Linked DNA regions of Homo sapiens. The protein of the gene in region 4 interacts with the protein of the main gene of each other region in a biochemical or structural test. Each region holds a gene or a part of one and is shown on either strand. Other genes may lie near its edges.

Region 1 (7,000 bases), on a different chromosome or scaffold from region 4:
CTGGGATTACAAGCATGAGCCACTGCACCCGACCAATGACTCCATTTTAATATACTATTCTTCCTCTTTCGTAATGACATGATTACCTCCATATATTGCTAAGCACACAGGACATATTTCTGGATAATTTTTATTTTCTGCCAAATTTTCCTATATTTTTTGGCAATGAACATGTATGAAATAATTTTAGATTACCATAACTAATTTAAGGTCCAAATCTGACAGGCACAAAAAGGGAGAGGAAGGAGAAAAACTACTACAACAACAACTTGCTTATGATCTGACATTTTATGTTCGGCTTAGATACTAAGAAGCCAATTTCATAATTTGAAGAGCCTTTATAGGGCTGTTTTCTATATAAGGTATTGAAAGGTTCTCGTGTATTTTACCAAAATTCCCAAATGCTAACTATTTTCTTCCTGAATCTTTCTGTACCATATATACTTTAAAGGGGTAAAAAAGGATTTTGAGGCAAAAGAAGAAATACTTCAGAGACATGAACAATTCCTAAAATATGGGCAACAAATTACCTGATTAAAAATATCTCCTCGTACAGCTTCACAGTCAACTTTGTATTTACAAATCAGGCAAGATGCTGTTGCAAAGGAACCTAAAAACAAACAACATATATATGCTTTATTAAAGAAGTATTTCTGTTTCTTGAACACACCACAAACGTTATAAAGTTTAACATCACAAATGTTAAGAGGGTTTAAGGATTTTTGTTTTTGTTTTTAACTTTGATTTTAAACCTCAGAACACACTGCAGATTTTGTGATATACTACAGGAGAATCTAGGGGATGAAGAATTTATATATTTATACATAGAATGAATATGATTCTCAATCTCTGAGACACTAATATAATGATGCCTTCTAAAGCTACTCTTTTCAACAAAACTGTAACAGCTCACTCCTCCAGGGCTAAAATCCTGCAGAGTTGGACAGTTCCAACTCTATTACCTTAGCTCGGCAGTTCTTAGAAACACTTTAGATACCTAATGGCCTGTTGATACTTGTTTTAAACATTTCTGAATCTCTGAATCCTGTACATCTCAACTATCCAGTTCTTTTAGTTTCATAAACTAAAGATGTCACATTTCTTCATTAACAGCTAATACTACTCTTGTATTCAGAATTTCTTTTTCTTTTTTTTTTTTTTTTTTGACAGAGTCTCACTGTCTCCCAGGCTGGAGCGCAATGGTGCAATCTTGGCTCGCTGCAACCTCCAACTCCCAGGTTCAAGTGATTCTCGTGCCTCAGCCTCCTGAGTAGCTGGGATTACAGGCGCCTGCCACCATGCCCGGCTAATTTTAGTATTTCTAGTAGAGTTGGGATTTCACCATGTTGGCCAAGCTGTTCTCGAACTCTTGGCTTCATGGGATCTGCCCGCCTCGGCTTCCCAAAGTGCTAGGATTACAGGCGTGAGCCACTGCACTCAGCCAGAAAAGATTATTTAAAATAATTGAATGCATGCAACTGCAGCATCTTTTGAAATCAAAAGCAAATTAATATCTGAGGTTTTCTATAATTAACTGTCAAGGCCAATACTTCTGTTTTTATTATTTTTGTTTTCTACTTTTCTGAGGTTATCGATAAATGAGATAACATGATTAAATAATGCTTTATCTCCACTTCTCGATGGCAGTCAGCTTTATAGGAAATATCTTCCTATAAAACTAAAATAAATTACAGAAAACCACTCTGAAGTTTACTAACCATGACACTGAATTATCCTTTGGATTCCCGCAACCTGTTCCAGCGTGTCTATGTTCTGGGTATAGTTGCGAAGTAGTTTTCCTTCCTTATCTGACAAGGCTATGAATTTGTGACAGAGAGATGGCTGGAATTGTCCAGGATATATTTCCTGTATCAAGCAAATGGTAGAAAAAATTTACATTAGTGAAATAAACTACAGATGTCATATGTTTAACAAAAAAATACTGATAATCCCACACACATAATTTTAAAAATGAAATAGATGAGCATTTTAAAGTATCTAGATGGATGCGACACACACCTACAAAAGGACGGTTGCTGTCATATGCATAAAACTCAGCAATTAGTGAACTTGGCCCCTTGAAGAAAAAGACAAAGTCGGCCCATAAACATCTCTAAGAAATGTTGATATTTTAATAAAAGTCAGAAGTAATACAACCTTAGGATATCTAATTTTTGTTGGCTGCAAATTCAGATTTTTTTCTTTAAAGAAAAATGGGAAAGTTTAAACTAAAATTACAGATATCAAGGTAGGGTGATTTAAAAAAAAAAGCACTGTCAATACAAGAATATTTAAAATTTTTTTTTGATTTATCATTCATTAGAATATCAACCTGCTGGAAGTTTAAAGCTAAAGTTTTAATCCTTACCAAAATTGTTTTCCTTCCACTGCACAGGCACATACTGGTATAGTATAGAGTTGCTCATGAATGCTGAGTTGCTGGATTTTGTGTGTGTGTTTTTCCCCCCAAATAATGCTTCAATGCTGTTTCTTCTTTAAAAACAAAGAATTCAGATATACACATGGCAAAAAGATCAGAGAAAAAGTATCAATTTTGGTCCTCCCAACTTTTGACAGTGTTTTTATTAAATTCCATTTAGTAAGTGACTATGGCAAAGGAAGTTTATTCTCTACTTTTTCCTTCAAAGTAGTAGTGCTATCATCTACTTACTTCCTTACCATTCATTACAGGCTCTAATCTATCACAATGCTAGCAAAAAACTAGACACAACCATATGTCCATCAATAGGGAACCGGTTGTATAAATATGGTACATCCATAATAGTGGAATATGTAGCCATTAAAAAGAATTGAGGGAGATCTAGATGAACTGCCCTGGAAAATGGTTCATGACATACGTGAAAAAAGCAAATTAGTCACCAGTATGTGTAACTTTTGTTTTTGTTACTAAGCAAAAATTGAAATTATATGCATATGTATATAGAGATGTCCATTTAATCAATCAAGTCAGGAAGGATACAAACAGGCTGTAAGCAGATGTGGGGAACTTTCACTTCTGACATTATACAAAAAAGTTTAATAGAGATTAAAGATGACTTTTTACCTATTTAATCTTTCAAATTAAAAAAAAATTCCCACTGCAACTTCTAGGTTCTACTACCCAGGCTTCTAAGTAAAACTTAAGTGAATTCCGTTAACAGCTATCACATACATGTACACATGCTGCTAAAAACCTCGTATAAAGAATCCAAAAACGTTGCCTTAGATTCAAATATTTATCACAAATTTCATGAATAACTCTTTGCAATTTAAGAAATAGAGAGTGCATATAGTAGCAAGGGAAAAGCTTAATAAAGTCAATGTTTACAGAAAATCAAAAGCCACTGTTTTGGAAAAGTGAGTTCAGTTAAATCAACCACTGTTTTCTTCCCCAGAATGCTTTGTTCTAGTACATTTACATTTGAGAGATTAAGCATTGTATGTCTCATTAAAGCTCCCTCTGGAAATAGCTTTTAGAGTATTTTAGGCACTATGAGAATATGCTAGGCAACAGATAAAATAGGACCTATAATAGTAAGCAAGTGATAATAGCATGCCAAATGCAGAATTTAAAAAATAAAATAACTCCAAAGCAAGGTCAGGGAAAAAGAGCAAGTACCAAGACTCCACCGTCCCTGAATTAACTGTGTGCCTTATCCACGTCCACCCCCACCCTTTCTAAAGGGTAGAGTAAGAAACACAAAGATGTATGGGACACTAGATTTAGCTCTTATTAATTCAACTACCTTTAAGACAAATCATAAGGGACATTTTTGTTTTATTTTATAAGCCTGCTTTTTTTTTTTTTTTTGAGACAGAGTTTCGCTCTTTTTGCCCAGGCTGGAGTGCAATGGCGCGATCTCAGCTCACCACAACCTCCACCTCCCGGGTTCAAGTGATTCTCCTGCCTCAGCTTCCTGAATAGCTGGGATTACAGGCATGTGCCACCACCCCAGCTAATTTTGTATTTTTAGTAGAGACGGGGTTTCTCCATGTTGGTCAGGCTGGTCTTGAACTCCTGACCTCAGGTGATCCGCCCACCTTGGTCTCACAAAGTGCTGGGATTACAGGCGTGAGCCACTGCACCCGGCCAAGCGTACGTTTTACATATGTGAGAATCTGAATGATTTGAGTCTTTGACTCATACTTTCTGTCAAGTATGAAATGGGCCATGTCTGAATTATTAGATTTAAATATAGTGTTCAAACTAAAAGTAGTAGTACAGGTGTGGTGGCTCACACCTCTAATCCCAGCACTTTGGAAGGCCGAGGCGGGCAGGTTACTTGAGACCAGGAGTACGAGACCAGCCTGGGCAACATGGAGAAACCCTGACTCTACAAAAAACACAAAAATCACAAAAATTAGCTGGGCCTCACGGTTCATGCCTGTAGTCCCAGAAACTCAGAAGGCTGAGGTGGGAGGATCACCTGAGCCCAGGGAGGTAGAGGTTCCAGTGAGCTATGATCGTATCACTGCTCTCCAGCCTGGGTGACAGAGTGAGAGCCTTTAAAAAAAAAAAAAAAAAAAACAAACAAAAAAAACTAAAAAATCTGAAATAATGAAAAAAATTACTCTGGAAGGACTGTTCTAATATACCACTCCTCCTAAGATAGGACCACTTGTTGAAAACCAATGACTGGAGATACAACTTACAGATAGAATATGGATTAACTCTTCCATGGTGAAAGTGTGACATGCTTAGTCCTATTCCAAACAAGACAGGCCACCCAGTTTGAATATCCTAAAGCCTTTTTAAGCAACCAATCATGAGGGCTGGGCCATTCTGTTGCTGCCATAGGGATCCTTATAGACCAAGAGTGGAAGCAGAACTGGAATCAAAGGCTCAAAACACTATTAAAACAAACCCTGCTTTCACATAGCTGTGTCTGGAAACATGCAAATAATCCAGGAATTGGCCATAGGCAACCAACGTGGTCAAAACTAAAGCTTAGAACTATCCGCAGAAATTGGCCGGATGTGGTGGCTCATGCCTGTAATCCCAGCACTTTGGGTGGCCGAGGTCGGCGGATCACAAGGTCAGAAGATCGAGACCATCCTGGCTAAGATGGTGAAACCCCGTCTCTACTAAAAAATACAAAAAAAAATTAGCTGGGCATGGTGGCGGGTGCCTGTAGTCCCACTACTCGGGAGGCTAAGGCAGGAGAATGGCGTGAACCCAGGAGGTGGAGCTTGTAGTGAGCCTAGATCACACCACTGCACTCCAGCCTGGGTGACAAAGAAAGACTCCATCTCAAAAAAAAAAAGAACTATCTGCAGAAATAATGGCTTTTCTGCAGAGATTATGCCTTTCTTTCTTCTCCAAATTTCTAGCAATATGAATAAAAGACCCTAGAGTAAAAGGCATAGGTGTAAATGCAGTCCCTCAAGACTAAGAAAGCTGGGCATGGTGGCACAGGCCTGTAGTTCCTGCTACTGGGGAGACAGAGGAGGGAGAATCACTTGAGTCTGGGAGTTAGGGAGCTGTAGTACTCTATGATCGTGCCAATGGATGGGCACTACACTCCAGCCCGCACAACATAACAAAATTCACACCCACCTTTTTTTTTGAGAGTCTCGCTCTGTCACCCAGGATGGAGTGCAATGGCACAATCTCGGCTCACTGCAACCTCCACCTCTCCTGGGTTTAGGCAATTCTCCCACCTCAGCCTCCCAAGGAGCTGGGACTACAGGTGCGCGCCACCACATTCAGCTAATTTGTTTTTAGTAGAGACAGGGTTTCACCATGTTGGCCAGGCTGGTCTCAAACTCCAGACCTCAGGTGATCCACCTGCCTTGGCCTCCCAAAGTGCTTAGGATTACAGGTGTGAGCCACTGTGCCCAGCCAAAATTCCCTCTTTAAAAATCAGAATTTTTAGAGAATTCATCAAAATTTACTGATGTTAATCTTTGCTGATATCCACCCCCTCCTATATATAGTTCAGATGGAGGCAGTTAAGTAGAGTTGCTGAGAAAATAGAACCTAAACTTTCCTTCCTGTCAAAAAAAGTGAAATGCATCAATCCTGCTAAGGAGAGTCCTCATAATCCCTCCTGTCTCTTTCATTCCACAAAACCACACTTGAATAAACTGCTCAACATCTTAATCAATACTAATAAATTGGTCATATGACAAATTCAACTGTATTTCAATATATAAATAGTATGGCTATGTTCTAATAAAAGTTTGTATTTATGAACACTGACATGAAAATTTTATATAATGTTCAAGTGTCATGAAACAGTTCTTTCAATTTTTTCCCCAGTCATTTAAAATTAATTATTAGCAGGGGGTGGAGGTGGGATTGGGAAGACGCTGGGAAGAATAAGTTCAGGAGATCTATTGCTGACTATAATTAAGAACATATTGTAGCCGGGCGCGGTGGCTCACGCCTGTAATCCCAGCACTTTGGGAGGCTGAGGCAGGCGGATCACCTGAGGTCAGGAGTTTGAGACCAGCCTGGCCAACATGGTGAAACCCTGTCTTTACTAAAAATACAATAACTAGCCGGGCGTGGAGACAGGCGCCTGTAATCCCAGCTACTTGGGAGGCTGAGGCAGGAGAATCGCTTGTACCTGGGAGGCGGAGGTTGCAGTGAGCCAAGATAGCGCCACTGCACTCCAGCCTGGGGACAAGAGCGAGACTTCGTCTCAAAACAAAAACAAAAACAAAAACAAATATTGTATACCTGAAAATTATTAAGAGTACATTTTAAATGTTCTCACCACCAAAAAAAAGTATGTGAAGTAATGAATATTAGCTTGAGTTAGCCATTCCATAATGTACACACATCAAAACATCATGTTGTACACCACATAAACTTTATTTGTTGATTTAAGTAATAAATTAATGCTTAATGCTTAGCTCACAGCCTATACAAAAACATGGAGTGGGCCACATTTGGACTGAGGCCATAGTACGCCAACCCCTGTATTAACCTAACACAAGAGAATGTCAATTAGTTAAACTGCCAGTCGCCACTTAATAAATTTTAGTATGTACC
Region 2 (7,849 bases), on a different chromosome or scaffold from region 4:
ATGAATATTCAAAAAACAATCAACAATTAACCCCGTTATACATTTTAGGTATTCTACGATCTTTTGAGAGGTTAAAGTTTTAAAGAACTATTCAAGGACTATTAAATCAGTGATTTTAGTTTTTACAATTAAGTATGGAAAACAAGCTAAGTTCAAGAGATTTCTTAAAGGCTTAAAATTTTCTTGTGTGTGTGTGGTTTTTAATTTTATTTATTGTCTTTCACTAACTGTTGTCCTAAATTTGCCCAAAGTGAACTCCCTGTTTTCATAGTAACAATGGGAAAAAAGTACAAGAGTTGATAAATAAGAAATGAGAGTGAAGAAAACATAACACAAATTTTTAATGCTTGATATTTTAAAGACTTTGGCTTCACCGATTTAAGGCATTTGCAGATATGGAAAAATGTTATGGAAAAGGGGAGGCGGTTGGAGATTATCGGGTCAAACCCACACTCACAGTGACAAAAAGTGACAGAAAGATATTACGCAAATGGAGTAAATTTAGAAACTTCTGTTTGTCAACTAAAACAAAATACCCAATAAAGATATATCTACACAACACCAAACTGACCACTGAATTCAGTTAATCAGGAAGACATTGGTAAGTCTGACAATTCTTGTAACGTGTGAATATTGAGAGGAGAAAAAAAGATCTTAAGAAGGCAGTTAAATGTATTTTCTCTTCCTCCCTAAACCAGTATCACAATAATGTAAATATCAAAACTTTTCGTCTTCCTCTAAGCCAATACAACTGGGTTCCTCCACAACAATAGTAACTTTAAATTTCTATTTGACAATTTGAATAAAACATATTGATGCGAACCATTATCCAATTATCCTGACCTCCTACAGTAATAATCGTCTTTCAAAATCTGTTTCACACTAAAACGTGTAAAGTACACTTGAAAGAAATTTGAAGATTCATCTTATATAATTACATTATCATTTTTAATGCCAAAAGTTTCCTTCATTCTCAACACCATGGTTTTAAAATTTTACGAGTTATGATATGCCTTAAATAAACTTCACCCAAATAAAAAGTTTGCTATGCATTAGAGAATCTAAATTAATGAAATTGAGAAAGCGCTAGACACCCTGCTATATTTTTACTGGGTGCCACATTTTTAATTCCATATTTGTCCTGCAATGTGTCAATCATTTCAATATATCCAGTCAACTTTGTAAACAAAGGCTATACTCCAAGTCTGATAAGAGAATTCCATTACACAAAATTTAAAATGGTCATCACTCCCTTAAACAGTAAGCAGGACAAGGAAAAATGTCACTACACACCTTTTTTTTAAAAGGCATCAAGTTAATATTCATGAAATATAAAGCCTTGAGTTTCAACCTCCCAAACAAGTTTTTACTACAACATTATTCAAAATAAGGCTATGCATCTTCCACACACAACCAAGGCAACTTTGAGATAGCTTACAAGTCTTTTCATTGTTAAGGGGAAGCTATCGCTGCAAAGTCATTTTCTATTACAGTTATTCCAAGTTGCCCGCTAAGAAAATAGAAAAAGCCTATGTTTTGTCACCTATTACCGTCACTTAAAAATTGCTTTTTATGCATAACTCTACGTGGTTGTGTTGCTTTTGGCCTGTTAAAGGCAAGGCAACATTATCTCTGGATTGCCAATAGTTTCTCCTTATTTGGCTAACATTGAGAGATCCCAATCAGACTACTATAAAACTTTAATATGCACAAAGCATCCATTTTGAGAAAAGTTTGTGACCAGCTTTCTTTTTTCCCAACCCCAAAAGAAAAACCAGAGCTTGGTAACCGGCTTTGAAAAGAGTGTCCCCTATTTATTCTTCTCTTTCTAACACCAGTGCACACCCGAGGACCTGGGGCTCAAGGATCTCTGACACTGCGGCAAACTTCGAGTATCAGACTCAACACGTTCCGGTCCGGAGGTGGGCAAGCCCTTTAGAGGGCTTCCTTACTCTACCCACTTCCATCCCCTTCCTTTCAGCCGGTGCAGATCAGCTAATTACACCCTGTTTTCCCCTCCCCAGTGACCAAGAGTAATAAATGAGAAAACAGGAAATCGTTCGTTCAGGGCACTCGGCTTAGGGCTCTAGATTACTATTATTATCATCATTTGTAATCAAGTCCTAAAAAGTGCAACAAATCCAATGCCCACCTACAAGTCAAAGATGTTCATCTGCCTAACCGTCCGTAATGCCCCTTGTTAGTTTTCTTCCTTCAGCATCCACCCCTCCGAATATACCACTGACACCGGGGCCCAGGCACAACCCCACTACACCCCTCCTTGTCTCGACCCCAAATCCCAGACTTATCCACGAATGGCCCTGGGGCCCCAAACGACCACAGTTCCTTTTCCCCTATGCCCCGGAAATCACCCGGTTCCCAACTCCACCAGCAACTGTTCTGAAGGGGGGCCTCAAGCCCAGCGCCCTCCCTTCCACCAGCTCTCCCTCCCGCCCTCTGGGGAAACCGCCCCCTCACCCCGCAGCAGGGAGTCTCCCGCCGCCCCCAGCCTCAAGAGGTGGAGAACTGAGGGCAGGCCCGAGCAGGAGGCCGACGAGAACCCTCACGGTCAGGAGAGCCGGCGGCGGGGCGCACAGACCTGGTGCAGGGCAGTGAGTCCGTCCACATTGGCGTAATTGATGTCGGCGCCGCGGTGCAGCAGCTTGAGGACCTCGTCCGTGTCGCCGCTGGAGCAAGCAGCCAGGAAGACGGCGCCATCGTCGAACTTCACCTTGGTCTTCTGGCGCTTCACCACCGGAGGCTCGAGGTCCGTCTCGGAGCCGATCCAGCGTTTCAGCTGCTCGTTCCGCTTCTGCTTCGCGTCCGCCATCTTCATCCCCTCTCCTGCCGCCGGGTCTTCTTATCGCGAGGGGGGGAAGGGGGAGGCGGAGAGGGAAGAGAGGGGAGGCAGGGGGTGTGTGAATGTTTCTATGAGTGCGGGCCAGAGGAGGGCTGGGAACCCGGAGCCGACGCTCGAGACTTCCAGTATCCCACAGAGCACTGGGGCGGCGCACCCGGCCGAGCGGACCTCCCTTCCTACCACAGAAGCCCTCCCGCCCCCAGCACGGCCACCCGTCACCGGCGGCCAATCTAACGTAACTTCGCGAGATCCGGACTGGGAGGCGCCCTTCGACCAGTGCGCATGCGCCCTGGGCCTGTGCCCGCCCCAGGAAGAGCGCTCCCGCGAACTGCGGCGGTGGTGGCTGGGCCACCAGAGGGAAGCGGGTGTGGCCCAGGCAGCGGGGGCTGGGACAGACCTGGAAAGGAGGAAGCGGGGAAGGAAGGTTGTCCTGTCGGGCTGGGGGCTCCCGGGAATCCGGAGGCCAGCAGTGGAACCGCAAGGCTCTACAGGGCAGATCTGCCTCCCGTGCTGTCTCAGCTACGCCGAGTCGTTGGCTCAGGGCGGAGGATTTTCCTATTGGCCGCGTTATTTGAATGGAATGGAGGATAGGTCGTGAAGTAGGTGCTGCTGGTTGATCTTTCTAAGGAACTCAGATGAACTTGGGCATGTCAGAATTAATAACCTTTTAAAAGTGGGGTCTGTGTGGCCGAGGGTTTTAATGGTAAGTTCTTGAGGTGACCACCTATTGACAAGGGTTGACCTGCTGTAATTGCTGTGGCTTCCTGCCAACCCCCACTTTAGAAATGTTTTTCTTCCTCTCTTTACTTGTTTTGTTTTGCTTTCTCTCACGCTTGGGTTCTCTTCTTTCTTCCTTCAGTGCTTTAAGCCTGTCTCGTACTACCCATGAGCTTAGCTCAGCCTGATTACTGGTCCTTACCTTTTAAGGGATTTCTGGTTACAGCTCCATCTCTTTCTAAGGAGGGGTAAAGACCTAGCTGCGTCTAGCATTTAAACGGAACGTTAAGGAAGGCAATTAATTCAACCACTATTTATTGAATACCTACTATGAGCCAGTAACTGTACTAGGCACTGAAGATACAATGAAAAATATGACATTTATTTGAACCACCTCTTGAGTTCAGTCGCCCAAACAAGACTAATTTATCATCGTCATAAAAAAAAGACTTTAACTTTGCCTTGTATGACCACACGCGCACACACATAGGATTTGTAATACTGATGTCTTATGAGCCATCTATCTACAATCTCCACCAATTGATTTTACTGAACACTGCATTGTTACCATCCACTACTATTTTTAGAGCATTTAGAAAAGCCAAGATAAAAACCACAAAACCTTACCATGGAAGTTTAGGGGTCATCTAGACAGAGTCCCTCAAGAACTAATTAATTTACTTAATTTTACCCAGAAGTAGGATTAGAATTCACTCAGCAAATACTATGCACCTGTTCTGGGTCAGGCATTGTTCTAGGTGCTGGAGATAGAGCAGTGAACAAATAAGCTTTTCTTACTCTCAGCATGATGCCTTTTCCAGTGGACTACTTCACAGCCTATCATATTGAGAAATAAAATAATTGAGTAAAACGTGATTAGGAAACTGTCTGCCTGTGAGACAATTTTCTGAACCACAGTTATTAGGATAGCGATAGAATCCAGGTCAGGGTAAAAATATTTCCTCTGAAAACGTTGTAGGAATAGAAAATGAATGTAATATTCATAAGATATACCATTGTATGTTCATTACATACATTAAAGATAACATCAGACCTTTGAATACTCATGGTGTTAGGTACTGAAAAACATTGTTAGCACTAAAATACAAAATCCCTATCCACAGAATACAGCTCTCAGAATAAAAGAAAGGAACTTGAGGATTGCCTTGTCAGCTCCTGTCTCTACCTAGGCAACTGACAGCATATCCTGTTTTCCAAGAACGTTATGGCCTATGTGGTAGCTCTTAAAGTGCCCTTGCAGTATAGATGGGAATCTGAAGATTTCATTCAGGCAAAAGGAATTTAGTGGGAAGTATGCTATTCCTGATTCAAGCACTTATTTCAGGATGCAAAATTAATAATAGTTTATTAATAAAACATAATTAAGTTCATTCAGTTCCCAGAAGCTGTCAGGGAAAAAACAACCAAGGAGGGCTGCTATCATGTGCAAATTTCACTGAATTTAGTTTTTCTTCTTTCGTGGCTCTAAGGGTCAAGATGCTCTATGTTAATATTGAAAGTACTCTGAAACTGCCACCTACTTTGTCTTTAGGGAGGATTTTTTTTAAATTGTTGTTAGTGAATTAATGGTACTGAAGACCTTGGGTTAATTCTAGAACAAGCAAAATTTTTTATTGACACACACAGTCCCAGCACAGTGGCTCACACCTGTAATCCTATCACTTTGAGAGGCTGAGGCGAACTCTGCCCAGGAGTTCGAGGCTGCAGTGAGCTCTCTGCACTACAACCTGAGCGACAGAGCTAGACCCTATCTTTACCAAAAAAAAAAAAAAAAGACACACACACACACACACATGCTTTTATTACATATTTGTCTAAGCAGAACAAATGGAAAAAATGCAAATATTTTCACTTCCTAATGGCTTCTAAACAGATTGGGATGTGAGGATACATTTTAGCTCCTTTAAAGCAAATTAAGCCTTAAAATAGAAGTACAAATAAAACTATACTTACTAATTTGCATATATGTATATATAAAAATATATTTTTGGCTGCACCAAATCAATCATATTGGAGGTTTTTGTTTCTGAGACAGGGTCTCACTCTATCGCTCAGGCTGCAGTGCAGAGGCATGATCTCAGCCTCCCAAGTAGCTGAGACTACAGGCGCGTGCACCACCAGGCTTAGCTAATTTATTTTTTAAGTTTTGTAAAGATGGGGTCTACCTATGTTGTCCAGGCTGGTCTCAAACTCCTGGGCTCAAGTGATCCTCTGCCTTGGCTTCTTAAAGTGTTGGGATTACAGGCTTGAGCCACTGTACCTGGCTGGGGGTTTTATTTATTACATGCACAAGATTGTCAGAATGAGATCTGTGTATATCTTTTTCAAAGTTTAATCACACTACTGACATTCCTTACCATTAATTTGCTTGCTAATTATGATCAACTTAATTTAAATTATAAACATATTTGAAATGCTGACATGCACAGCTTAGATTTGTTTCTGCTATTATAATCTCTTTGTTAAAAATGTACATAAGATATTAATAAATACTTTGATATATCTATGTTCTCTTTATCCCTAATTTAAACCTGAGATACTAATTTACATTTATACACTTGAGAATAGAACAGTCAACAAGGACCTTGTTTCTGTCTCCTGTATTCTACACCTGGGCCAAACTCTCTTCCATTGCATAATAATTTCTTTCCAATGTTTTATTTAAGAACCTGAAGAAAAGGCTGGGCACGGTGGCTCATGCCTGTAATCCCAGGGCTTTGGGAGGCCCACGTGGGCAGATCACCTGAGGTTAGTAGTTCGAGACCAGCCTGGCCAACATGGCAAAACCCCCGTCTCTACTAAAAATACAAAAATTAGCTGGGCGTGGTGGCACGTGCCTGTAATCTCAGCTACTCGGGAGGCTGAACCCGAGAATACATGAGAATTACTTGAACCAGAAGGCGGAGGTTGCAGTGAGCCAAGATTGTGCCACTGCATTCCAGCCTGGGTGACAGAGCAAGACTCTGTCTCAAAAAGAAAAAAAAAAAGAACTTGAAGAAAAGTTTACAATCCATTCACATCATAATTTATTTAGTCCTACCCAGGGAGTTGACCAGAACCAACATGGAACCACCCTAACTTGCTTCAGACTCCATTGCTAGATCAATCCTGATTTCTAGATCATAGCATCTAATCTTTGCCTTGCCTCTGGATTACAAGGTGAGTTTCTAATTTACTTTAGGGTAAATTTTCTGCCACATCTGACTCCATTTCAAGAAACTAACCCTATCACAGTACAAGTACTGGCTAATATGCTCATAAAGCTTCTTTTGTTCCCCAAAACTAGGACTCAGATGAGTGTCTGGCAACAATCCAAAGTGCAGTTATACTGCTAAAGAGATAACTCACCTCCATTGCACATGACTCCCAACCTGTATCATGTGACAGAACATCACATGCCCCTTTCATATGAATTAATGTTTCCCAAACTTTATCAGTTTTATTGCCAAATTCAAGAACCGCAAATACTAGTATTTGCTTAATGTTTTCTTTAACCTTTTTAAGACAAATTTATTTTAAAGCAACATTATGTTGCTTTGGTAAGTGAAAAACGTTTCCACTTGACATAAAGAAGACTGTTAAAGCAAATACAATGAAAACAAAACATTAGTTAGGTTGTCTGTCAAGGGTCTGAGCCCAAGCTGTGCTCTCAATTTGTTAAAAAAGGGATATTGGTAAGGGTTGGACATGTGAGCATCAACCTAAGATTTTTCAGTTTAGCATAATCGGAAAGATTAAAAGGTAGTGAAAAAAGAATATTGTGCTAAGTGCTTCACTGTTGTTTTAATGTTACATCTACCTTATAACATTACCTCATGTACCACCAGTCTACATGTCCTACACTTTAGGAAACTGACTGACTTTAATTAGTATGTGTAATAATAATTACGATTAATTAAGTGAAGGTTATAGGATAGGCCTTAGTGGCACCCCCAACTCAAGGTGTCAAGGCAAGGCATTGGCAGGAAGGCCAATTTGTATGAAAATATCTGTGTGCTGAAGGAATTTCAGAAATAAGAGTCATTCTCCATGGCACTGAAATTAGAAGAATAAATTACAAGATCAATATCTGGAAGGCAAGTTTAGGTGCATGAGTTCTATCTTGGATCACTAATATTTAGTTGAGGGATCCATTCAATTGTCCTTCAAATCAAATCCTAGGAAAAGCTTTAAAATTCCTTCACAGACCAGAGTGCAAAAACAAGGTATTCATGAGAACCAAAACATGCTGACCGTGCTCAATTTTGACAG
Region 3 (7,787 bases), on a different chromosome or scaffold from region 4:
GAACACTTTGCATGTCTAGTTTGCAATTATTCTGATACAAGAAGCATCATTTTTCTCTATAGCCAGGTTTCAAAGGGCCATTGTGCTGTGAAGAAAATGAAAACAAAACCAGCCAACCTGGTTCTGATTTGGCTCAATATCCCATCTGCTAAACTACATGAAAAATTTCAGAATTGAATCCTTTCTGGCAACAAGTGGCATAAATCAGTTTTAAGTATAGGTCCCCATCATGCTTATTCATGCTGCTTAGAAAAGGAGGGGGCGGATTTACAATATATGTCTCTAGTTTCTATTTTAGAAATGACAGAAATTTCAATTTTTCCAGTACTTATTAATCATCCAGCCGTTTCTTTTTTGCAGTTAACATTAGCACATGATGCTGGACTAGTAATACCAAGGTTTTTGGTATTTTGCTTTCTTGGCTGAGCACAGTATTATAATTCCCCGAAAAGTTATGTATAATCACAGTGTTATCCAAATAAATGAAAGACTCAAGAATAATTTCAGTGTCCATATTTCAAAAATTTATTTATCTCAAACTGTGCATAATGGAGTAAAAACTTAAGTTGAAAATGTACCTGTTATAAGGATGATATTAGTTCAAATATATACATGGATTCTCGGCAGACTGATTCAAATAATACAGAGCCGAATCTTTTAAAATACAACTACGGAAAATAAAGGGGGGAAAACCTTAAAATATCACAATAAATTTACAGAAATATTACAAACCATAAGAAAATATTTCAAACACAGTAATTTCATGGTTTTTTTTATCTGAACAAAATGGAAAGTTGGGATCGAACAAAAGCTATTATAAATTACCAACGGTGTCAACCTGCATGGCCATTTTTGCTTTTAACAGTAAGTTATAAAATTTAGTACAGTCTAAAACTTTTGCCCTTTTTAAACAAGACCACAGAGATGGTTCGCCAGTACTTATTCTAATTTTTTCCTTTTGTACAATTTTTAAACAATTAAAATGTCCAAATTTGAATAATTTTCTTCTTTTCACGTTTGCAACTGTCCTAAATTTCAGCTGCAGAATCAAAATTCAGCAAGAAGCCTCTCCTTGAAAAATATTGGCAAATTCTCAGCTTATAAACAATGGACATTTTGATTGCCATGTTTATCTCGATAAATACTGTACAAAAGTTGCTTGCAAATATTAAAACATTTTTTTCGTCGCTTGGAGACTAGCTCTAAATATTATTGGTAAAGACTTTTGCAAACTTCCTGCAAAGCTCCTACCGTACCACTAGAACTTTTAAAAAGTTTTTCGTAGCTTTCTTTCCTCCAGATCTATACAAGGTCCATTCCCCCGCCCTCCCCACCCTCCCCAGGTTTTCTCTGTACAAAAATAGTCCCCCAAAAAGAAGTCCAGGATCTCTCTCATAAAAGTTTTCTTGTCGGCATCGCGGTTTTTGCGTGAGTGTGGATGGGATTGGTGTTCTCTTTTGCAGCTGTCATTTGCTGTGGGTGATGGGATTTTTTTTTTTCCTTTTTCTTTTTGAGCGTACCGGGTTTTCTCCATGCTGTTTCTTACTCTCCTCTTTTGCACCCCTCCCATTTCCCTCGTTTTTCTTTGAAAATTTCTCCCCCCTCCAGTTCGCTGTCCGGCCCTCACATGTGTGAGAGGGGCAGTGTGCCGTTAATGGCCGTGCCGGGCACCGGGCCGCTCTGGTAGTGCTGGGACATGTGAAGTCTGCTGGGGGCGGCGGGTTCCGGCACCTCGGCGCCGGGGAGATACATGCTGATCATGTCCCGGAGGTCCCCGGCCTGGCAGGGCGCCCTGGAGTGGGAGGAAGAGGTAACCACAGGGGGGCTGGAGCTGGCCTCGGACTTGACCACCGAACCCATGGAGCCAAGAGCCATGCCAGGGGTGCCCTGCTGCGAGTAGGACATGCTGTAGGTGGGCGAGCCGTTCATGTAGGTCTGCGAGCTGGTCATGGAGTTGTACTGCAGGGCGCTCACGTCGTAGCGGTGCATGGGCTGCATCTGCGCTGCGCCGTGCGCATTGAGGCCCGGGTGCTGCGGGTAGCCCAGCTGGTCCTGCATCATGCTGTAGCTGCCGTTGCTCCAGCCGTTCATGTGCGCGTAACTGTCCATGCGCTGGTTCACGCCCGCGCCCAGGCCGGCGCCCACCCCGACCCCGCTCGCCATGCTATTGCCGCCGGGGGCCAGCAGCCCGCCGGGCAGCGTGTACTTATCCTTCTTCATGAGCGTCTTGGTTTTCCGCCGGGGCCGGTATTTATAATCCGGGTGCTCCTTCATGTGCAGCGCTCGCAGCCGCTTAGCCTCGTCGATGAACGGCCGCTTCTCCGTCTCCGACAAAAGTTTCCACTCGGCGCCCAGGCGCTTGCTGATCTCCGAGTTGTGCATCTTGGGGTTCTCCTGGGCCATCTTGCGCCGCTGCCCGCGGGACCACACCATGAAGGCATTCATGGGCCGCTTGACGCGGTCCGGGCTGTTTTTCTGGTTGCCGCCGGCCGCCGCCGCGGTGGAGTTGCCGCCGCCGCCCCCCGAAGTTTGCTGCGGGCCCGGCGGCTTCAGCTCCGTCTCCATCATGTTGTACATGCGGGCGCTGTGCGCGGGCCCGGCCCGCCGGCGGCCGCCGACCCTCGGCCCGGCCGGGACTTTGGGGGGCCCGCGGGCGGGGGGAGAGGAGGAGGGGAGGCGGGCGGGGGTGTCGGGAGCGCAGGGCTCCGCGAGGAAAATCAGGCGAAGAATAATTTGGGGGAAAAAAAGAGAGAGGCAAACTGGAATCAGGATCAAAAAAAGCGCTTCCCTCCTCCTCTGGCCGATCCTGCCGCCGCCGATGATTGTTATTATTATTTTTTGGAAAGGCTTAAGCCTGGGGCTCAAACTTCTCTCCCTTTCTTTCTCTCTCCTCTTCTTTCTCTCAGTCCTAGTCTTAAAGAGGCAGCAAACTACTTTCCCCCTTTTGCAAACACTCTCTTCTCTGCCTTGACAACTCCTGATACTTTTTTGAACAAGTTAATAGACAACCATCCATGTGACGGGGGCTGTCAGGGAATAAATGGGTTTCTAGCGACCAATCAGCGCGCGGCGGCTCCTCCACTCGAGCCCAGCCTCGCTGCCGGGTTTTGCATGAAAGGGGGCGGGGCCTCCCGCGCCGCCGGCCGCGCGGGGGAGGCCGGGGGAGGAGGGGGCAGGCGAGGAGGGGGAGGAGGCTCCCAGAGCCAGCCTGCCAGCCACTGAGAAACCTTTGTATCCCCTCTCGCAGCAACAGGTCACACCACACGCCTTTTCGAAGGAAGTGGGTAAACAGCACTAAGACTACGTGGGTTTTTTTTTCTTTAAACTTAATATTGATTTACTTTTTGGTGCAGGGTACTTAAATGAGGATGGGACGCGGGAAGCAGCTAAGGTGCGGGGGTGGGGCAGGGCACAGTGGGTGGCTCAGGGCGGCTGTCCAACTCGTATTTCTGGAAACAGCCAGTGCAGGAGTTGGTGTGTCATTGTTCTCCCGCTCATCCACAGCACTCCCCCCCAACTCCAGCCCCTCTGGTGCCGCTCCCGTACTGCGCTCTTCCGCTCTCCTCTCTTACCTTACAGGTGCCAACACTCTCTCACGCCCTTCTCACAGTCCCGACTAGAAGTTAGGAGACCCAAACCTCTGTCCTCAAAACCTTCCTTGCTTCCACGTAACTTGCTCTGTTCTTAAAAATAAATCCTGCTCGGACCATAAGGCAGACTCTAGAGCTGAGAACCAGCAGGCCTTGGTAAGCTGCCATCTCCCTGTCCAACTCAGCTCTTTGGCCCAGGAAACTGCAGCTCTTCCTCTTAGCCCCAGCCACATCTCCCACTAGACTGTCTTCATTCAACCGTAGCAAAGGGGATGCTTCTACTGTCTGCCCCCACTCCCCATTCCCATCCCATGCCTCCCCGTAAGAAGGGTTTCGGTCGTGCGGCTTTCAAATGGGGGCTGGGGAAAGACACAGACGGAAGGGCGCTCAAAAGTGCAGGCGATGGGGGAGGGTGATTTCAACTTCCTGGCATCCCACGGCACTGTATGGAGGTGGCTTTTGGGCCGCAGTCACAAACTCCCTCCCACGCAGAGTTCCCAGGACTCCAGCAGAACCAGCCCTGGCATTTTCCCCGTAGATTTCCATTGTGGTGGCCGCAAAGCCCAGGCCGCGCAAGGCTGGGGCTGCGCCGCAAAGGGGCTCAAGGCCTGGGAGGCGGGGTCGATGCTCTCCAGGCACAGGTGCAGGCAGCGCACACTGGGAGAAGGCGGCCGGGACTGGGGAAGGGGGAGCCCAGCAAGGCCCGGGTTAGAGGAGGATGAGATGGGGGCGGGGGTAGGGGCTCAGGAATCTTGCCCGCCCAGGACCCAAGAGGGTAATTTTAGCCGCTCTCCCATTGTCCCGACGTAAAGATTTCAATAGGTAGGCGCTCAATGCGGAGGGCAATGGCAGCACGTCCGTTACAAATAGGTAGTTTTGTTTCTCTTGTTGTCGCTACACGGAGTCAAACAAAGCCTCGTCTAAGTTTCCTTCCACTCTCTTGTTGGGATCTTTGTGGCTAAAATGCACTTGACTACAAAGGGTGGGGTGGGGGGGAATAAAGAAAAAAAAACCTGATGCCATTTCTTTTTTATAAAGGGCTTAAACCATCAGGGTTACTTATTTTCTTTCTTCTGTAACACTCTCTCCGCCCCCTCCTCCCCTGGTCTACCCTTACTCACCCTAAGAAAATGTACTGAATAGTATCTACCAGCCACGTTCCATTTATTATCTTTACAAAACGGTGCATTGTTTTGTTCCTTACTAACCTTCTTCCCATAATCACTCCCCCGACCCCCAATTTCTCCAATCTCTGCCCTCCCTAGCCTGTTACTGTCAAACTCACACTAAATATACCCACTGGAAACTCAGAAAAGTTGTAAAAAAAAGAATTCTGCAGACTTTCCTTAAGTTATTTCCAATCAACCTTCCTGCCCCCCGAAGGTTCTCCTTTTTCTCTCAAGTTATGGCTTGTTTTAGTTCTTGGGAACCCGGAAAGGGTGAGATTGGGTTTCTCAAAATGCATACATATTCGGCGCTCTTCAAAATACAGCACTGTTTTCTGTTTAATCCAGGTGTAATATTAAGGTAAACACGGACCTGGAGATTAGGAAAGAGAAAAGGTTGAGAAGATCTGGGGAAGAGAAGGCGGCCACCGGCTTTTCAGCGCGGCTGGTTTCAGGGATGTGGCTGGTGCGCCCCCTGCTGGTAGATTCGCTTTTCCAAGACTATTGCTTTTACCTTTAAAAGAAGGTATTTGAAAATAATTAAAGTAAAAAAAAAAAAAAGAGGGGGATGGAAGATCAGACTAATTATACATAATCTAAACAAAAGAAAAGTTAACATATCTTATAAGCTGCGGAACCAAATCATAAGAATCAGATTTAATTTGCCTAACTTAGAAATATACATACAACCTCGAGGTAAGTGGGAGGTTAGACCATGGGAAAAAATAGGTACAAATTATGAGATTCAACATGTGAATGAATTATGATTGTCCAGACGCCACAAAGGGCAGACCAAGAATTCACTTTATGATTGTGTATGCATCGGTCTGCTTAATAGCATTATTCTAAAAACTTTAAAAAGCTTGTGGATAATTGTTTGAAGAAACAACCAAGGAATTGGTGTGGATAAGGGTGGTGTATATTTGTTAAAATAAATACTAATAACAGACGGTTATAGACACAAATCTTTTAAATCTCGTTGCCTTTCTCTCAAGGCACAATTTTTTTCCTTGGGAGGATATATAACAACTTTTACACATTCTCAGATGCATGTGTTTGTGCATGAACTCTATAATAATGTATTTAAGAGGTTAAAGGGGTTGGCTAGGTCTTTTATTAATTGCTTTTATCACATTAATAAGCTATGGAATTACGTTACAATTGTGTTATCATTGGTTGCATTTATTTACAGCTTTATTTTAATTAAGCCTGCTGTACTTATCGAGACAATAAACTAACTGTGGCTGGCGATTATGCATAATAATGTGCTATGAAAATAAGATTAAAGAAGATGGTGATAGCAGGAACATTTTCTCATTAGATTTTTTAGAACATATGCATTTTAAAAAATCAGATCACTGCCCACTCTATTTCAATCCAGCACCATCACTGATCCCTAAATATAATAACTATAACGATTCCAATAGATGACAGAAGCAACACTGTTTTAGGTTTGTAATAGACAGCTACAGTACTAACAACAATATACCATTGACTACTAGACAATCAAAAAAGACTTGGAACAGGATGCTTCATCCTCTGAGAATCTAAAATGTTGCCATTGGCACAATTTACGAAAATTGAAAGTGCTTAATCTAAAGGGAGTGTAACACTTCCCTTCCACGGGCAACAAAAAGCTACATACTTTTAGAGCAAGATTAGTAGTTAGTAACAAAAATGCATGACTCCTGGAATATTCTGATTTTATTTTGTTCTATTATAGGCCCTAGCCAAAAGGCCTTAACTGTTAAGTGTAACTCAATTTTATTTCAAAATCTTGCACATTGATTTTTCTCTCCTAAAGTCTCCTCAGCACTCCTCAAGTATTATATCTGAAACCAACTAACAATTTTGTGGAGACAGGGGACTGTAGACTTATTTTTTCTTCTTAGTGTCAAATAGAGGTTTAACTTGCAGTAATTAGGTGAGAACTAGCCAAGCATCTTACTATTATGATGCTTGTTAAAAAACGCTTCTTTTCTGCATCTGCATTTGAGTGTGTTCCCCTCCTCTCTTAATCTTCTTATGGAAATGAAGGCAAACGGCAGGGAACCTGCAGAGTCTTGGAGAATGTCCTTGTTAACTGGAATTTCTCAGCATTGCTAATTAGCAGAGTTTGACGACCACCAGTATTGGGGGAAAGCTCTGTTTAACCACTCACAAACCATTCTGAGGAAGAGCAGACTAATTTTATTTTGTAATTAAAATCTGAAAAGGGCCCTATTTGACAGTTAGGGCTATGAGAGTTTTATCTCCCCGTGAAATAATTACTGCCTTGATAACTCAATTTTCTGAAAAATGTCAACTGTAGGCTCCAAAAGTTTTAATTTCATTATGTAAGGAAAAAAGTGAGAAAAATAGAAGAAAATGTACAGAAAGGTTTTCTAATTCTAGAACTGGTTAAATATACAAGCAGCCAGATGTGGTCAAATGAAGGTTTTTTTTTTTCTTCCCTTTTTTGTCATGTTTCCTCCAAATCCTAACCTTCCCACAATCTCCTCTAAAAGTGACCATAGCAGCAATCATACTGCAGTGAAAGAGATCATACCAGTAGTCTGGTAAGTGAAAAGAAAACAAAATTAAAAAGCTAAGTGCAGCAACTGGAGAAAATTTTCTAATTTTAAAGGCCAAAAATAAAGGAAAATTTAAATGTTTAGGACAATGCTGGTACAATTTGGTGAGATGATATTTATATTTATCCTGTAATACAAGAAAATTGAGAATTTCAGAGTAAGGAGACTGGCATAAGCCAATTTTTAAAACATTTCCTTCTCCTCTGTAAGTCACAAAAGATCTCAGTCACTTCAAATTGGAGCATGCTACACGACTTCCGGAATGACCAAAGCTTGATTCTTCATTTCAGAAACAAACACATATAAATGAAGGTAAATAAGTGCATTAGAAGATTTTTTTTCCCTTAAAAGAGCATTGCATACTTTCCAAAAACAATTAACAAGAAATAAGCTGGAAAAGGTTAGGATATAGAAAGTAAGAGCAAAAATTCAAAACTGAATTGTACCATTGTCAAACT
Region 4 (7,030 bases):
TATCACACAAAAAGACCAACTATCCCAAAGACAGGCATTTAAAAAATTGAAGTCTAGAGAGTTGCCCTCCTGTGTGTACCTGTTTATGTCTTATTACTGGGACTGCAATGATGTGGCTTTGAAGAACTTTGCCAAGCATTTTTTCATCAATCTCATGAGGAGAGGCAACAAGCTGAGAAACCGATGAAGCAGAAGAACCAACAAGGTGGCAGAATCTTGCTTCGGGGTACTAAGATGCCAGATTGTGACATCTGGGAGAGTGTGCTGAACGCAATAGAGTGTGTGTGACCCTTGGAAAAAAGTGTGAATCTGACTTTACTGGAACTGTGCAAACTGGCCACTGACAAAAACGATCCCCACTTGTGTGACTTCAGGGAGATGCGCTACCGGAATGATCAAGTGAAATCCATCAAAGAATTGGGTGACCATGTAACCAACTTATGCAAGATGGGGGCCCCCAAATCTGGTATCTTTTGGCCAAGCACACTCTGGGAGACAGTGATGACAAGAGCTAAGCCTTAGGCTGGCTGTCCCATAACCACAGGGTGACTTCCCCAGTCACCAAAGCAGTGCCTACAGGTAGGGGTTAATTTTACCCATTGAATAAATTGTAGAAAAACTTCCACTTGAATTCTTTCGTTTGTATTAGTCCTTAACATAAAATAATTCGGTACCCCCAAAGAACAAAATAAAACTGTGAGTGCTACCTGCCATCAAAGAAGAAGAACTTCCCCCGTCCGTTCTTTTCTCCGTGAACAAAGTTCCCCTCAAATCTGTCTGTGGAGGAGTAGGTGACTGTGCAGAACCCGTGCGGTAATCCGTCATCGTCCAGGTGCCCTGGAGAAAGGGAACCACAAGGCAAACCTTAACATCTTCAGTGCTCCTCCCATCTGACGTCTAAGCATTCAGATGCTGCCAGACAAGTCCCCCACCCAACTCCCCTCCAGCTGCCAAAGGGTCCCCTCCCTGGAAAGAAAGGGTAGTCAGCGTGCAAAAGTTTCTCACCTCATCGGCACCAGCAGTACCAAATTGATTGTTATGTACACTTTGTGAACTGATAGGTCCAGAACAGACTTAGACACATTCCAGAATATGAACTTTAAATAAGCTTGCTTTTTACCTGGAACTGAGAGTCATTATCAGTAATATTATCTGCAGGGCATGTCACAATTTACCAAGTACTCTCCCGAGAGTCCTCATATTTGGAATTGATGCCTCCAATCTCTCATGCTTAACTGAAGTGTGGTTGAGATTCCACTGTTTTATAGTCAATTGCCACATACACAGTCTTTGGAATAAATTATCTAATTCTAGAACATTAAGTATGCAATATGATTTTATACATCATTCTATAATATGATGTGGAGGACTGCTAGCCAGTCTGAAAATCTCACTGTTATTGTTATATTCACACAAGGAACAGTGTCATATCTTTAAAACTGCCCTAAGATTTATATAGCTCATTGTACAAACACAGAAACCCAGAGTCCTTCTCACCTTAAACTTAAGCTTAACCTTAAACCTACTGGTTTACTTTACAAAATCTTTCAGCTTTGAATGTTTAGTAATAACCTTATCCTATACCGTCCACCACTGTGTCTCAGAGGGCTTGTGTTTTAAATGGAGCCAGAGTATGCACATGGTCATTTAAGCAATGATTGTGAACATCAGCAGAAGTTATTACATGGACTTTTAAGTCACTGGTTATTCCTAGGTCAAAGATTGGTATAGTTTAATACTGACATTTACAGTCAATGTTTATGCTTTTTATTACTATCTACATGTTTTACAAAACCCAGGAATCACCTTATTGGTGTCTTCCCAATCATTCTGGTGAGCTGATTTTGCAGAGGTGGGTGAAAATGAAGGCAGTAGTTATTCTACTGGCTTTTTCTTGGGGTAATAACCTGGGTCATGGAGAGAAAAGGTATGAAAACATTAAACACTGTGTCTAATGCAGGGACATTAAACATTGAAATGTAGCTTCCAGATGGCTCACAGACATAAAAGGCAACACAAACCATACTACCACAGTGAAAGCTTTAGTCTCCTCAAATAATTTATTCTAACATGATAAAAGAATATTAGCCCTTGGAAAAGATGGTAAGTACACACTCTTATAAAGAATAAATATGCGGCCGGGCATGGTGGCTCACGCCTATAATCCCAGCACTTTGGGAGGCTGAGGTGGGTGGATCACCCTAGGTCCAGAGTTTGAGACCAGCCTGGCCAACACAGTGAAACCCCGTCTTTACTAAAAATACAAAAAATTAGCCAGGCATGGTGGCGGACGTCTGTAATCCCAGCTACTCAGGAGGCTGAGGCAGGAGAATCGCTTGAACCCAGGAAGCAGAGGTTGCAGTGAGCCAAAATTGTGCCACTGCACTCCAGCGTGGGCAACAAGAATGAAACTCCATCTCAACAACAACAATAAAAAGAATAAATATGCTCTTTATTTGTATCATTAATTACATAAACATAAAATAGCTGCAAACAACTACAGTGTTTTATTGCTACATCTGACTCTGTATACAATGGGTTACCTAGAACATCTTACAATAAGACACATCTACTTAAATAAATCATAATCAATATGGATCCCTTCCTCTTAACACAAAAGAGGAAAGGCCCAGGAAATTAATGGTCAGAAGGGAACTAGGCCATAATTGCTTTCTTCTCGCTCAAAAACTAATTGTACATGACATAAATTCAATGACATTTGAGTCATATGAAATCACTTGGACAATTATTTTCTAAATATCTGATGCCATTTCTCTCATTGAAATAAATTAAATTTGCTTTTTTCTTTTCATTAAAAAAAGCCACTCAGTGTATTGCTAAGAGCTTTTTTTAGTGAAATGTTGTTGCGATCAAGTTAAATTTAGGCATATAAATTCAGTGTCCTACTTTTGATTTAGGTATTAATATCCAAATAATCAGTTTAGCCTCATACTAGAGCATTTATTAACTTGTTGAAAATGCTTTCACCATAGAAAACAGTTCACATATTTCAGAGTTTTAAAAGCTTATGTTTGATAAAATGTGTTATTCCACTTTAGATTGAGAGAATTACAATAAATCTGAACACTAAGAAAAAAATGTCCAATATAAATTAATTTCCACCTTCCTTCAGCCCTGTGCTATTTCTGAATAAAACACTGAAGGTGCACCCTCAGCAATGGAATTTAGATATTAGGGAAAGTTGAAAGTGTCATATAACATACTGTAAGCCCTTGGAGGATAGTACTGATCCCAGTTGAGATGACAACAAAAATGTCAACTCCACTCCATGAAGAATTATTCCTTCCTTCCTTCCTCCCTTTTTGCCTCCCTCCCTCCTTCTCTCCTTTTCTTCCTTTCTTACCTCACTCCCTCCTTCCCTCTTTCTCTTCCTCCTTCCTTTATTTTTTAGAGACAGGGTCTCACCCTGTTACTCAGGCTGGAGTGCAGTGATGAGACCATAGTTCACTGTAACCTCAACTTGTAGGCTCAAGTGATCCTTCTGCCTCAGCCTCCAATGTAGCTGGGACTATAGGTAGACATCACCACAACTGGCTAATTTAAAAAAAAAAATTTTTTTTTGAGACAGAGTTTTACTCTTTTTGTCCAGACTGGAGTGCAATGGTGCGATCTTGGCTCACTGCAACCTCCGCCTCCCGGGTGCAAGCAATTGTCCTGCCTCAGCCTCCCTAGTAGCTGGGATTACAGGCACCTGCCACCAAGCCCAGCTTATTTTTTTGTATTTTTAGTAGAGATGAGGTTTCACTATATTGGCCAGGCTGGTCTCGAACTTCTGACCTCAGGCAATCTACCCACCTCAGCCTCCAAAACGGCTAATTAAAAATTTTTTTTTATAGAGATAGGGTCTCACTGTGTTGCCCAGGCTGGTCTCAAACTCCTGAGCTCAAGTGGTCCACCCACTTTGGGTGCTGGGATTACAGGCAAGAACCACCACACCTGGCCTCAGTGCCTTTCAACAGGCAAATGAAGAGGAGCCCTATCATCATCTTAATCTCTTGGGAGAGACAAGGTCAGGGGAGAGCTACCAAATGATGGCCATTACTCTGGTGACCTTGCACATTAAGGAGGTGCTTGGACATGTGACCACTCCCTATCATTCTGAAGGCTTTTAGATTGCTGGTTGTGAGAGAATTCTGAAATCTATTCGACGACAGCAGGAGCCTCTTCCTGGCTTGTTTTGTTTTCTTTACATCCCTAGGGTGTGATCAATTAAAGGAACTAGAGATTAAGGGTTGTGATCATTCGAGACTTCCACTCTGAATATTTAATATCCCGGATTAGTTTTCCTAGCAGTAGAACTTTATGTCTAAAACAGCAGCCACAACCAAAACAATAACAGAGACTTTCCATGAGAAAGAGAAGAGACTAGGTTGCAGTGCTCTTACATCTTCTTTCAACATTAGTGCTAGAACAGAATCTGACATAACTTTTTCAAATGCCAATAAGATCATTAATATTTGGACAATAAGATCATGTAATATTTTGTCATGTCAGTAAGTCAATTTAATGCACAGGGGTACTGATAAACAGAGGAGAAAAAAAGTGTATGAATCTACTATGATCGGCATTGGGTTATATGCTTTCCTGTTATCAAATGTAAGCCTCAAAACAGTCTCCCATATTCTCATCTTACAGATGAAGACACCAATGCTTTATGAGACTTGCCCAAGAGACATTGCCACACTGAGTGTGCTGATGAATACTGAAAGCCCCTTCTCCAAATCCTTTAATTCCCATTCTAGACACTGGCAAACTAGTTGAACACACTCTTCCTTGGTGATGGTAAGAAGGTACCTCTAAAAAGGTAGGAACCCCCAGGTCCCTGGCAGGGAAGTGGAAGAAGGCTTTGTGGTTAAGATCATTCACACAGAACCACCAGGTTTCCAACAGCATGTCCCGGTTGCAAAGTCCTATCTCTTCCAAGTGTTATCTAACTTGAAGGGAAACACTAGTCCTCCTTGCTCTGCATGAGGTCAATTTGTAAAATGCGCCAAGTCAGCCAACAGCCTTCCAGGCGAGTTCCCACTGAACAGAGGGTGAATACCAGGCCCAAGCAACAGGGAAAATTAACTTGAATGACTGCTCTGTGTTTTTAAGGTTGCCGGAGCTAATGTTCTGTGTATCTGTCTGTAGCATGATTTTAAATATTTACAGAAGTTAGAGAAAGGAAAAAAGTATCAGTTCACAAGTCTACTTTTTCACTTTATTCTATGGTCATTATCTATTGAACAGATAGAAAGTTACAATTTTCCCCTCTAGTTACTTCTGAGGGAGCTTCTTCCTGAATCTGATAAGAGCCAGGCCTATATTCTAAGCAGCAATGTACATCTCAATCTCAGCAAAGTAAATTCCCTCTGGATCAGACACCCAGCTGCTTAATGTCTCAGGCTTACTCACAAGAGATCTGAGAGTGGCGTGTGAGTATTTCCCTTAGAACCAGAGACCCTACGCACACACTGTTGGTTTTGTACACTAGAACATTGCTTTAAAAAACAACAATTAATAGGCCGGGCGCGGTGGCTCATGCCTGTAATCCCAGCACTTTGGGAAGCCAAGGTGGATCTCTTGAGCCCAGGAGACCAGTCTGGGCAATACAGTGAGACCCCATCTCATTAAATAAATAAATAAATTGAAAAACAAAAAACAACAATAATAAAAGGCAAGCTTATTCTGTTTAATGCAAAGAACATGCCCTCCTGGTGATGCATTCAATCACCAACTCTTAAAAACATAACTTGATGTTTTGATCTTTTTAAAATTTTTTAATTTTTTAGGTTTTTAAAAAATTATTTCAACTTTTATTTTAGATCCGGGGGTACATATGAAAGTTTGTTACCTGGATAATTTTTTTTAAGGGTAATTGTTGGCAAGGGTTCATCTATTAATTGTGAGGGTCATGATTTTAATGTGTGGCCCACACAGAAAGGGTGCTACAAATACACTTCATATGCATTTTCCCTAGATACAGGGCATGAGCACTCTTAGCAGAGACAAGTAGAATCTGATATTAGGGGGAGTGTTAATAAAAAATATTCTTAATATTTTGAAGGGGTTGTGGCAGTGGAACACTGAGCTGCTTATTTTCATTCTGGCCCCTTGTTCTGATATTTCCCCTTTTTGATCATTCTTCCTCCATGTCTCCTACACATTTCCAGGCCCTTCTGTTTTTCCTGCCATCATAACTGTGCATCTGGACCACTGCAAAGAGACTTCAAGGTACCTCATCTGCTGTGTCAGCCCCTCTGACTGTCCTGCTGGCCACTGCCTGTTCCTCTTCCCGGAGTGGAGCCTTGATCCTGTCATTCCCTTTTCTAAAGAGCCCCCACGGCTTCCATGGCTTCCAGCACACAGTCCATGCTCTCAGCCTGCTACCCAGCCTCCTTTCCCTGTCTTCCCCTCCACTTTTCTCCTTGTAAGCTCCATGTTGCAGCAAAATCAAATGACTGTTCTCTGGGTGCACCCGCAGAATTCCATGCCTCCGTGTCTTCACTCACAAAGTTCCCCTCTCAACCTGACTCAGCTCTATGGCACCTCTTCTGGAAAATCTTTCCCCTTTGACTTCCCTAAGCTGGAACTAATTTTTACTTCCTCTCAACCATCACAATTCATCTGTATAGATATATTTATTTGAAATCATATTAGAGACCACATCATATTCATCTTTGTATCTATGGGTAGACAAAGAAATAGATGCTGTGATAAATTTCTGTTTCCAGATGCCCAGGGGAATAACACTGGAAAACTAAACATCACTCTTCACTGAACCAGTGTGTCTCAAAGTGTTTTCCAAAAGCCACACCAGAGCTCAGGTGGAGCTCTGAGGTCCTCTGAGGCCCAGGGCTTGCTGCCTTCTTCCCACAAGAGCACAGCCAACACAGTACACAGAACACTCTCTCGACACAGCCTCCGCCACTCCCCTCACCTCAGGGAATTGTCCACTCTGAGTTCAGAACTTTCCCAGAGTTACAATCATACCCTGACAGAGAACCAAATGCACATGATATATAAG

What was found.
Region 1: the proteins of SETD7 (region 4) and SIRT1 form a complex in vitro, tested with the Homo sapiens proteins (one study listed by BioGRID and IntAct).
Region 2: of the proteins of SETD7 (region 4) and PPP1R12A, one has a biochemical effect on the other in vitro, tested with the Homo sapiens proteins (one study listed by BioGRID).
Region 3: of the proteins of SETD7 (region 4) and SOX2, one has a biochemical effect on the other in vitro, tested with the Homo sapiens proteins (one study listed by BioGRID).

What each region holds. Positions count from the first base shown.
Region 1 is NC_000010.11:67,901,656-67,908,655, reverse strand, and holds part of SIRT1 (NAD-dependent protein deacetylase sirtuin-1), read right to left. Parts: intron 2,494-7,000; exon of another isoform or gene 2,402-2,493; coding exon of another isoform or gene 2,369-2,401; intron 1,867-2,368; coding exon 1,719-1,866; intron 611-1,718; coding exon 531-610; intron 1-530. UniProt on the Homo sapiens protein: NAD-dependent protein deacetylase that links transcriptional regulation directly to intracellular energetics and participates in the coordination of several separated cellular functions such as cell cycle, response to DNA damage, metabolism, apoptosis and autophagy.
Region 2 is NC_000012.12:79,932,096-79,939,944, forward strand, and holds the start of PPP1R12A (protein phosphatase 1 regulatory subunit 12A), read right to left. Parts: upstream 3,003-7,849; 5' UTR 2,837-3,002; coding exon 2,600-2,836; intron 1-2,599. UniProt on the Homo sapiens protein: Key regulator of protein phosphatase 1C (PPP1C). Mediates binding to myosin. As part of the PPP1C complex, involved in dephosphorylation of PLK1. Capable of inhibiting HIF1AN-dependent suppression of HIF1A activity.
Region 3 is NC_000003.12:181,707,151-181,714,937, reverse strand, and holds SOX2 (transcription factor SOX-2), read right to left. Parts: upstream 3,014-7,787; 5' UTR 2,578-3,013; coding exon 1,624-2,577; 3' UTR 502-1,623; downstream 1-501. UniProt on the Homo sapiens protein: Transcription factor that forms a trimeric complex with OCT4 on DNA and controls the expression of a number of genes involved in embryonic development such as YES1, FGF4, UTF1 and ZFP206. Binds to the proximal enhancer region of NANOG.
Region 4 is NC_000004.12:139,546,213-139,553,242, forward strand, and holds part of SETD7 (histone-lysine N-methyltransferase SETD7), read right to left. Parts: intron 1,908-7,030; exon of another isoform or gene 1,807-1,907; intron 838-1,806; coding exon 708-837; intron 1-707. UniProt on the Homo sapiens protein: Histone methyltransferase that specifically monomethylates 'Lys-4' of histone H3. H3 'Lys-4' methylation represents a specific tag for epigenetic transcriptional activation.